2 separate regions of the Homo sapiens genome follow, and region 2 is linked to region 1. A link means that fine-mapping ties the variant in region 1 to the expression of a gene that starts in the linked region. Tissue or cell type: whole blood. Region 1 holds a variant in brackets; the other region holds the start of a gene. All regions are shown on one strand. Distances are from middle to middle.

Region 1 (5,175 bases):
AGAATGGCCAAAGTTATAATTGGTCTTTCAGATTTTTTCATATGGACAAGAAACTGACCCACGAATTATAAAATCCATGTGGAAAAGAATTGATCCAAATCAATGTAACTTCAAGAAAATGTAGAAAACTTTATAAAGGAGTAAATTGGCTTTATTCTCTTGATGAAAACTCAGTATTTTGGTGTAAACTCTATTTAAACAATTTCGTTCATAAACACAAAGACAAACCATGGGGTCAAAATGTGTCCTTTGCTTTTAAATTCTGTCCTTCATTTACTTGAATGACCTCAGTGCTTAGGCAGTGGCCTGTGTTTTAGACCTGGTGATGACAGCTCCCCTCACCTAGGAGCTGAGCACCCCGGCCATCTTGGTGACCACAGAGCAGGTCACAGGCTTCAGCTGTACGCCCTGGGCAGGGGAGAGATTGTGCTGCATTCCCAGTCTGCTCCACCTCCTGGTGAGGTCTGTCAGGCCTGGTCCTGTCCTTGGAGCCACCAGCATCCTCAGACAAGAATCTAGACAGTGTTGCCAGTTCCATCCCCAGGATGCTTGCTCAAAGCCAATGCATGGTCTGAGCTCCATGCCAGGCCCTGGTGGGGGCAGCCACGTTGACACCTTCACCCTGTCCCTCCTCACCCAGCACATCCTTTACTGCATTGTGGACAGCGAGTGTAAGTCAAGGGATGTGCTCCAGAGTTACTTTGACCTCCTGGGGGAGCTGATGAAGTTCAACGTTGATGCATTCAAGAGATTCAATAAATATATCAACACCGATGCAAAGGTAAAGTTAACCCAGGGCTCTGTGGAGTGTGCTGGGTTGTCCAGAAGTTCACCTGGAGTCCTGGTCTGCCAGGCTTTAGGCACAGGTTTTACGTTAGAGACGACGGGGGAGTCTGGGCAGTCTTTGGCAAACATTCATTGGAACCTGCTCTGTCTGGCTTTGTGCTAGACCCTGGGAATGCAGGGATGAAAACCGGGGCTGCTTGTGGGTAGGGAGTGAGGGTGGGAATGGGTGGCTTGTGCGCCTGCCGTGACGCAGCATGGTGGGTGCCACGGTGGGAGCCGCTGTAGGGAGGGACTGGGCCTGGTGTGTTAGGCTCACCGAGTGTGTGTGACAGAAACCCAGCTCAGGCTAGCTGAAGTAAAATTAAAAGTAAAAATTAAAGGAATCCAGCACCCTTGAGCGTAAAACCACTGGAGAGAGTGTCGGATCTGTGCTGAATTCCGGGGAGTGCCTCTTAGTACCTGGGTGGTGAGGGGAGGTCCCTCAGCTTATCTGAGCCTCTGTCTTCCTATCTGAAGCAGTGGGGCTGGTAGAGGTCGCTGATGCCCCTTGTAGTGACTATCCCCCCGGGCCATGGCCATACCTGGCCAGCAGCCCACTGCCTGCTGTGAGCTTGGTTTCTGTATAGTTCCAGGTATTCCTGAAGCAGATCAACAGCTCCCTGGTGGACTCCAACATGCTGGTGCGCTGTGTCACTCTGTCCCTGGACCGATTTGAAAACCAGGTGGATATGAAAGGTACATGAAAGGCAGGCTGTCAAGGCAAGTCATGCAGGGTAAGAATGCTGGCATCAGACACCCTGTCTCCAGCAGGGAGACAAGAATGACTGAGGGAGCTGCACCAGATGCCCACGTGGCCGGCCTCAAGGTGGCGGCTTCCAGGGCAATTGGCTTTGCTGCCTTGTTCAACACTTTAATAAGGTGAAAATCCATTGTTGCTAGCAAGATGCAAAGAAAACCAGAAAAAGACCTTCCTCTTCTGGGCTGGTATTGCCTGGCACGATGAGTTGGCCCCCTCGTCCTCAGTGTGCTGTGCGTGGCATCGCAGGTGCCCTGTGGTGCAGCAGGCATCTGAACCCTCCTGGACTTGCTAACGCACTTCCATGTGTATGCGCACGCGTTTCCTTTTTTTCCTAGGAGAGGGCTTGTGGCATCCAGCAGATTCTCCTGAGGGTTTGTGACCCCCCCACACCCCCAAAAAGTCAGGCACTTGTTCCTTGTCACGGTCACTGTCATTGATAGCAAGAAGTATCCCGGTTGTTGGTAATTTAGCCGTTTGCTTCCTTTTTCTGCCCCAGAGGGTCTGTTTCAGGGGAACAGCCACACAGATTTTGGTACCTTCGGTTATTGCCCTGCCTCCCAGTTGTGCGGGAAGCAGTTGCTCCGACACTAGTGGACGGAGCAGAACCTGTGCCTTGTGGTCTCAGCACTGGGCCGGACTCACCTGAGAGCTGGTGTGGAAAACCAGTTGCGCTAGGACCTCTGCAGAAGGAGTGGAACTTTTGCGTTGTTTTTCTTAATGCAGCGTCATGGATCCATCTTCCTGTGGAGGGAACTCTTCTGTGTGTGATATGGAGGGCACGGGTCTGGAGCCAGTCTGGGGAGGGCTGAGGGAGAGCTGCCCTGAGCTTGGTTCTGGAGGATGAGGTGGGGTGCTCCTGGGCACTCTGAGAACATGGCTTTGCCTGGTAGCAGGACAGCTGGAGGTCCTTCTTTCTGCCACAGTCAGCTTTCGTTGAAGCTGTTTTGATGATGAGCTCCTAGCTTCAGAGTCAGGACCCAAGCGGGGCTCCACGAAAGGCCTGGGCGACCCAGCCACTGGGCCTAAGCCTGACCTGCTGCACCCCTGCCTCCCTCCACAGTTGCCGAGGTACTGTCTGAATGCCGCCTGCTCGCCTACATATCCCAGGTGCCCACGCAGATGTCCTTCCTCTTCCGCCTCATCAACATCATCCACGTGCAGACGCTGACCCAGGTGAGAGGCCCCGGCAGACACACAGCAGGGAAGGTCGATTGGAAACCACTTCCTTTGTCCTGGTGCCCAGCAGGTTTCTGTCCCCCACTCCAGAAGTGCGTCTCTGGAGACCCAGCTCTTCTGAGGACTGTGCTCAGG[A/G]GGAATCAGTGTCCCATTGTACAGACAGGGCCTAAGGAAGGAGGGCTCGCAAGTGCCCTCAGGTCACAGGCTGACTTGCAGGCCAGTGCTCTCCCCGCCTCCCCCATGTCCACGTCCCTCACACCTTCTGCCCTGCTGGGCTTTGGAATCGGACCTGAGGCTGCCCAACTCCCTCACTGAATAGTCATGCAGCCTTCCCTTCTCTGAGCCTCCTGCCCCTCTTTTCTAGAGTGAGGGTGATCTTAGCACCTCTCAGAGGTGGTCTTTGGTTCCGTTCTGAGGTGAAGCACCAGGTGGGAGTGCATGGTGAGTGGGGCAGAACTCTTTCCCCACCGAGGCGCGCAGGCTAGTGCTGAATGGCACTTCTGAAGCGGGATAACCGCCCCAACACACGCACCCAGCCCTGCCTGGGACGGACCTTCCGGAAGGAGTGATGCTTGAGCCCAGGTCTGGACAGGGACAGGTGTTGTTGCCTCAGGTGGGGTGGGAGGTGGGCGTGGGGAAGAGGAAGGTGCTCAGTCAGGAAACTGGGGCTGCTGGGGGCCCCCTTCCCCCAGTCCTATCTCACCTCTGTGCAGGGAGAGCTCTGTGGGTGGCCCGAGGCCTGGGGCCACTCTCCTCCCTGCCTGATGGCTACCCAGGTTCACCAGGGGCCACTGGGGCTCCCACCAGCCCCTGACCCTGTGGGCCTGTGGCCTTGCAGGAGAACGTCAGCTGCCTCAACACCAGCCTGGTGATCCTGATGCTGGCCCGACGGAAAGAGCGGCTGCCCCTGTACCTGCGGCTGCTGCAGCGGATGGAGCACAGCAAGAAGTACCCCGGCTTCCTGCTCAACAACTTCCACAACCTGCTGCGCTTCTGGCAGCAGCACTACCTGCACAAGGACAAGGACAGCACCTGCCTAGAGAACGTGAGTGCCCCACCCTCAAGGGGGTGATGGGTGGGCCGCGGACCCAGGGCCTCTCAGAGGGGTGTCCCGGTGCTGGGCTTGACCTGGGTCCTCCAGGCGCCCCCCAGCCCCTCCCTCTTTGCCCAGAGCTCCTGCATCAGCTTCTCATACTGGAAGGAGACAGTGTCCATCCTGTTGAACCCGGACCGGCAGTCACCCTCTGCTCTCGTTAGCTACATTGAGGAGCCCTACATGGACATAGACAGGGACTTCACTGAGGAGTGACCTTGGGCCAGGCCTCGGGAGGCTGCTGGGCCAGTGTGGGTGAGCGTGGGTACGATGCCACACGCCCTGCCCTGTTCCCGTTCCTCCCTGCTGCTCTCTGCCTGCCCCAGGTCTTTGGGTACAGGCTTGGTGGGAGGGAAGTCCTAGAAGCCCTTGGTCCCCCTGGGTCTGAGGGCCCTAGGTCATGGAGAGCCTCAGTCCCCATAATGAGGACAGGGTACCATGCCCACCTTTCCTTCAGAACCCTGGGGCCCAGGGCCACCCAGAGGTAAGAGGACATTTAGCATTAGCTCTGTGTGAGCTCCTGCCGGTTTCTTGGCTGTCAGTCAGTCCCAGAGTGGGGAGGAAGATATGGGTGACCCCCACCCCCCATCTGTGAGCCAAGCCTCCCTTGTCCCTGGCCTTTGGACCCAGGCAAAGGCTTCTGAGCCCTGGGCAGGGGTGGTGGGTACCAGAGAATGCTGCCTTCCCCCAAGCCTGCCCCTCTGCCTCATTTTCCTGTAGCTCCTCTGGTTCTGTTTGCTCATTGGCCGCTGTGTTCATCCAAGGGGGTTCTCCCAGAAGTGAGGGGCCTTTCCCTCCATCCCTTGGGGCACGGGGCAGCTGTGCCTGCCCTGCCTCTGCCTGAGGCAGCCGCTCCTGCCTGAGCCTGGACATGGGGCCCTTCCTTGTGTTGCCAATTTATTAACAGCAAATAAACCAATTAAATGGAGACTATTAAATAACTTTATTTTAAAAATGACTGCTGTGGACCTGGCTTTTGTCCCTAGGACTGTGTTTTTCCTCCTGAACCCCAAAGAAAAGAATGAGAAGGAAACTGGCTGTGGTGTTTATTCAGGGCCCAGGGAAGGCTGAAGGCAGCAGGGGGCGATGCAGAGATGGCAGGATCGGGGCAGGTGGCCTCAGCCAGATGTGCAACAGCAGACATTCCTCTTTAGAGCCCAGGGGGTCAGGCCGTCACTCCTTGTGCTGAGGAGAAAGGGATAGCTGAGTGAGCAGTACTACCTGTCAGCCCCCACAGTCCCCCTGCACAGAGAGCAATGCCCCTGCCACTCCTCACCTTGGGGCCCAGGGCGTCCCGGGTCCGTGCCCGCAGCTTGTTGGC
Region 2 (5,120 bases), 88 kb before region 1:
TCAGGTGATCCACCTGCCTCGGCCACCCAAAGTGCTGGGATTATAGGTGTGAGCCACCGCGCCCAGCCGGCTTACAGGTTTTTAATGGCAGGAGGGCAGAGGCCACAGGCGAAGTCATAAATCAATACATAGGGGCTGTATATTGGTTCCACCTAAAAAGACAGGACATCTCCAACCAGGGGCCCACAAGTGGATTCAAAGATTTTCTGACTTGTAATTGGTTAAGGAGGTAAAGCTTTGTCTAAAAATTTGGGATCTGCAGAAAAGAATGTTAGCTCTGACTTATGGTCGTGTCCTCCTCCAGGCCCCCTAGGAAGAAATTTATAACAAAAAATAGAAGTCAAAGTTTAGTTCTCAGCTCTCCCTTATCTGAGTTTGCCTATCAGCAGATCCATTTGGTGGGGGTTCGAGTTTCTAAGAAACAACACTCAGGGACAAATTTTAAGATGTTATATTCAGTTTCTATAGGGAACAAAATATCTCCTGACTGTAACTTCTTTGGCTATTTTTTTTTTTTTTTCTGAGATGGAGTCTCATCCTGTCATCAAACTGGAGTGCAGTGGCGTGATCTCGGCTCACTGTGACCTCTGTCTCCAGGGTTCAAGTGATTCTCCTGCCTCAGCCTCCCAAGTAGCTGGGACTACAGGTGCATGCCACCACGCCCAGCTAATTTTTGCATTTTTAGTAGAGATGGGGTTTCACCATGTTGGCCAGGCTGGTCTCGAACTCCTGACCTCATGATCTGACTACCTCGGCCTCCCAAAGTGCTGGGATTACAGGTGTGAGCCACTGGGATTACAGGTGTGAGCCACTGCACCCGGCTGAGTTTATTTTTGTATAATGTGAGAGATGAGGATCCAGTTTCATTCTTCTGCATGTGGCTTGCCAGTTATCACCAGCTGTTGAATAGGGTGTCCTTTCCCCACTTTATGTTTTTGTTTGCTTTATCGAAGATCAGTTGGCTATAAGTATTTGGTTTTATACTGTGTTCTCTATTCTGTTCCATTGGTCTATGTGCCTATTTTTATACCAGTACCATGCTGTTTGGGTGACTATGGCCTTATTGTATAGATTGAAGTCAGGTAATGTGATGCCTCCAGATTTATTCTTTTTGCTTAGTCTTGCTTTGGACATGCAGGCTCTTTTTTGGTTCCATATGATTTTTAGGATTCTTTTTTCTAGTTCTATGAAGATGGATGGTGAGTCTACTCCTTTTAGATGGGGTGTGAGGATGGTAACCATAGTGCCAGTTCACCTGGGAGAGTCACTTTTATGCCTACCGTCCCGGTGTAATTATTTATTGTGTCTTTTCATTCTTTAAAGTGTTCTGGTTTGAGCAGTAAGTTACAGTCATCTTAGTTATGAGTCACAATCTTCACCATTCCCTGTTACATCACACTTAGCTCTCCTCTTTCATTTTTATTACAGGCCCCCTGCTAGGAAGGGAAAAAGTGTGTGTGTGTTGGGTGGGGGGAGTCAGTGCCATCCTGCCACAGAAGTTAGCTGAAAAAATGAGTATTAGAGACAACATGCTATCTGGTGGATAGAAATTAGGACAGGGTTTTCATCTGACAGAGAATATGATGTCACAATTTACTAATCCCTTTCCCTTCCATTATTTAATTTCACAACAACCTACCCAGTTACACAACTTATCCAGTTTGAGACTGCGTTTCTTTGTGTATGGATCTGCTGTCTTCCCCTGTAACCTGCATTTCGTGATAAAGGATCCCAGGCCGTTCTGCTCACCACTGTATCCCAGACACCCTCCCTTTCCCCTAGACATGGTTTGGTGTCGGGCGCAGAGAAAGCCCCAGGAACTACGATTGATCAGGCTCCCAGAATCTATAGATGGAGTGACCTGACGAGGACACAGGCGCAGTGGCAGAGCGCGATGACTTGGTCGATGTCCGCGGTGAGTCACGTGTAGAGAGAAGCAGGCAGGAAGCGGACTCGAGGGCCTGACTCCTGACCTGAAGCCCAGGATCATTTCTTGGCCAGCTGCCTGCATCCTGCCCAAATCGGCGAGAGAAATGGGAGAATGTGGACCTTGGGAGATTTCGCCGAAATGCTGGGCCCGGGGGCCAGAGAAACCGGCAGTGCAGGAAAGGCCACATCTCTTTTCCCACCTACCCCGCTGCCGCGCAGGACTACAATTCCCAGTAGCCTCCACGCCGCACACGGTCCCTGCCACGCGGCTTGCGCCTCCGCCGACGGCCCACTGGGGGCGCTGCGGCGACCCCTCCGCCGCCCCGTAGAAATCTCCGCGGCCCCGAGGCCGCTTGCTTCCTGTTTGTCCGACGAGGAGACATGGCGGCGGCGCCGGTAGCGGCTGGGTCTGGAGCCGGCCGAGGGAGACGGTCGGCAGCCACAGTGGCGGCTTGGGGCGGATGGGGCGGCCGGCCGCGGCCTGGTAACATTCTGCTGCAGCTGCGGCAGGGCCAGCTGACCGGCCGGGGCCTGGTCCGGGCGGTGCAGGTACGAGGCTGGACCAGGAGGGGCGGGGCGGGGCGGACCAGGCGGGAGCTGGCGGGGGGCCGGGGAAGAGGCCTTTCCAGGCCGCCGCTGGACGGGCCAAAGCCCTTTTGGCTGGCCGGAAGGCCTCCCTGTGAGCTGCCCGGACGCTCTCAGCTGCAGCGGGGCCGTGGGAAGCAGCTGGCTTGATGTCCCTTGTCAGGGGCCGAGCGGGGCTGGGCTGCTGTGGACACTGATGGCGTGTACGAACCCTGGGCCCAGTTTCTGGATCCTCCCTTCTTTGCGCCACGTCTACACGTCTGGGGGACCCTGTCGTGTTTGTTTTAGCCTCTGTGGGCCTCGAGTTTATCCCGTGTATTGGGCGTGGGGGAGGGGGTCATCATTGCAGCCCCCAAATGGTTCCCGAGCATTTCATAAATGTCATTTTCTCAGGCCTTTCCTTGACACTCTTTCCTTCCCCTTTCTAAAGTAGGTCCCCATTGTTATTCTGTCACAGCCGCGAATTCGTTTCGTTTACATTACTTTCTTAGTCTATAATTTCGTATTTCTTTGTTGTCTGCCTTTTTCTCGCCCGTCTCCCACATTAGGCTGAGTTCCAGCGGGTGCAGAGACTATATCTGGTTTGCTAGTGTAGAGCGTCACGGTTAAGAGGGACTCTGGAGTCAGGCCTGGGTTCAAAGCCCTGCTCCTCTCTCTTGCTTGGGCAGGTGACCTTTCTGTGCCTCAGTTTCCTCACTTGTAAGATGAAGATGAGAATTAGTAACCTACCTTTTAAGATTGTTGTGGAGATCAAAGGGGGCAATTGTGTAAAGCATTAGTGCATTTCTGGTGCATACTAAGGGCTGAAGGTAGTTAATATTAAGCATCTGACTTATAACAGGTGCCCAACATATGATTATTGTTATTTTTGAGTGAGCGAAGGACACTGCTTTAGGGTAAACCAGGTTGAATAGGACCTAGTCCACTACTTCTTCCACCCTCCCCCACCCCGAACCTTGCTAACACCTGTAAAACATTAGCTTTATTTAAAGACAGCTTTTTCATAAAAAGTTTGAAGGATACTCAAGAAACTGATAAAGTGGTTGGTGGGAGTGAGGTGGGAATTGGGCTAAAGGGGGAGAAAATGGGAGTGAGACTTTTCACAGTGTAACTTTATTTAAATTTAATTTGAATATCACTTCCTCAAATGACGAAAAGGATAGAATAAAATAAAGGCTAGGGGGTCTGTGTGTATGGAGGACTGTGGACGAAAGGAGCAGTTGTGAGTGAGAAATGTTTTCCTGGCCATCACACAACCATAGATGAGCAGCCTTTTTCCCCCTTGTGTTCTTAAGACCTGACTTAAGACCCTGTAATCCCAGCACTTTGGGAGGCCGAGGCAGGCAGATCGCTTGAATCCAGGAATTCGAGACCAGCCCAGGCAACACGGCAAAATCCTGTGTCTCCAAAAATTTAGCCGGGCATGGTGGTGGTGTGTGCCTGTGGGGAGGCTGAGGTGGGAGGATTACCTGAGCCTGGGAGGCGGAGATTGACAGAGTGAGACCCTGTCTCAAAAAAAAAAAAAAATCCTAGAAATACTTGCTCTTTCCTTCTTAAGCTAAGATACCTTACCGAGCTGGGTGTGTAGAGACAGGCAGAAAGAGGACTAACTTTTAGTGAGCACATAACCTTTAGAAAAAGTACGGTACAAGGCATATGTTATCTTTAATCCTCAAGCTTTTGAGTTATGCTTCAAGACTCATTTCTTAATATGGATGAGGAAACTGAGGCTCAGAGAGGTTAGATGATATGTTCCTAAACACCCATCCTGATAATCAGTGTTCTGAGAATAATAGGGAGCCACAGAAGTTCTTTAGCATGATAAATGAGGCAATTTAGGCAACTTAATTTGTTTCCAGTGCTGAATGACTTAGAATGGGAGGAGCCTAGAAAAGCCCACCAGAGGCTGGGCACAGTGGCTCATTCCTGTAATCCCAGTGCTTTGGGAGGTCGAGGCGGGTGGATCATCTGAGGTCAGGAGTTTGAGACCAGCCTGGCCAACATGGCGAAGCCCCGTCTCTACTAAAAATACAAAAATTAGCCGGGCGTGGTGGTAAGCACCTGTAATCCCAGCTACTCTGGAGGCTGAGGCAGGAGAATTGCTTGAACCTGGGAGGTGGAGGTTGTGAGCTGAGATCACGCCACTGCACTCCAGCCTGGGTGACATAGTGAGACTTCATCTCAAAAAAAAAAAAAAAAAGCTCACCAGATACAAGGCTGCTGGAATATTCTGGAGCCACAAAAGCAAGGCAGGTTATTGTGGTAACTGATGGTTGTATATAGGTGTGGGAGCTATTTCAGAAGTTGAAGTAGAGACCCCCTGCCTGGAGCTATAGTGAGGATAAAATGGGGACCTTCATCTTTCAAATATTTCTTTTCTTAGTTTTTTTTTTTTTTAATTTATTCCATGCTGTGCCCTTCCGCTCCTCTCTCCCATCCTGCAGAATAAGTTATTTGCTTACCCTTTTTTTTTTTTGAGACAGAATCTTGCTCTGTCACCCAGGCTGGAGTGCAGTGGCAAGCTCAACTTCCTGGGCTCAAGTGATCCTCCCACCTTAGCCTCCCTAGTAGCTGGGACTACAGGCGTGTGCCACCACACCCCATTA

Evidence for each region. PIP is the estimated chance that this variant, and not a neighbour inherited with it, causes the effect.
Region 2: it holds the start of TRPC4AP, and the variant in region 1 is fine-mapped to the expression of TRPC4AP in whole blood (GTEx, PIP above 0.99). The same link has a PIP of 0.9 or more in tibial nerve.

Annotation. Positions count from the first base shown.
Region 1 is chr20:35,002,041-35,007,215 of GRCh38, reverse strand. MYH7B (myosin heavy chain 7B) reads right to left here. Exons shown (of 45, transcript NM_020884.7): 44 at 5,131-5,175; 45 at 4,779-5,039. The coding sequence ends at 5,028. TRPC4AP (transient receptor potential cation channel subfamily C member 4 associated protein) reads left to right here. Exons shown (of 19, transcript NM_015638.3): 15 at 641-781; 16 at 1,413-1,521; 17 at 2,646-2,758; 18 at 3,600-3,806; 19 at 3,933-4,812. The coding sequence ends at 4,070. Among named protein-coding and RNA genes, the nearest start is that of MIR499B, 14 kb to the right of the region's middle. The variant A/G (reference allele first, on the strand shown) is at 2,897.
Region 2 is chr20:35,089,972-35,095,091 of GRCh38, reverse strand. TRPC4AP (transient receptor potential cation channel subfamily C member 4 associated protein) reads left to right here and starts at 2,285. Exons shown (of 19, transcript NM_015638.3): 1 at 2,285-2,478. The coding sequence starts at 2,311. RefSeq lists a silencer at 2,384-2,513 and an enhancer at 4,040-4,599.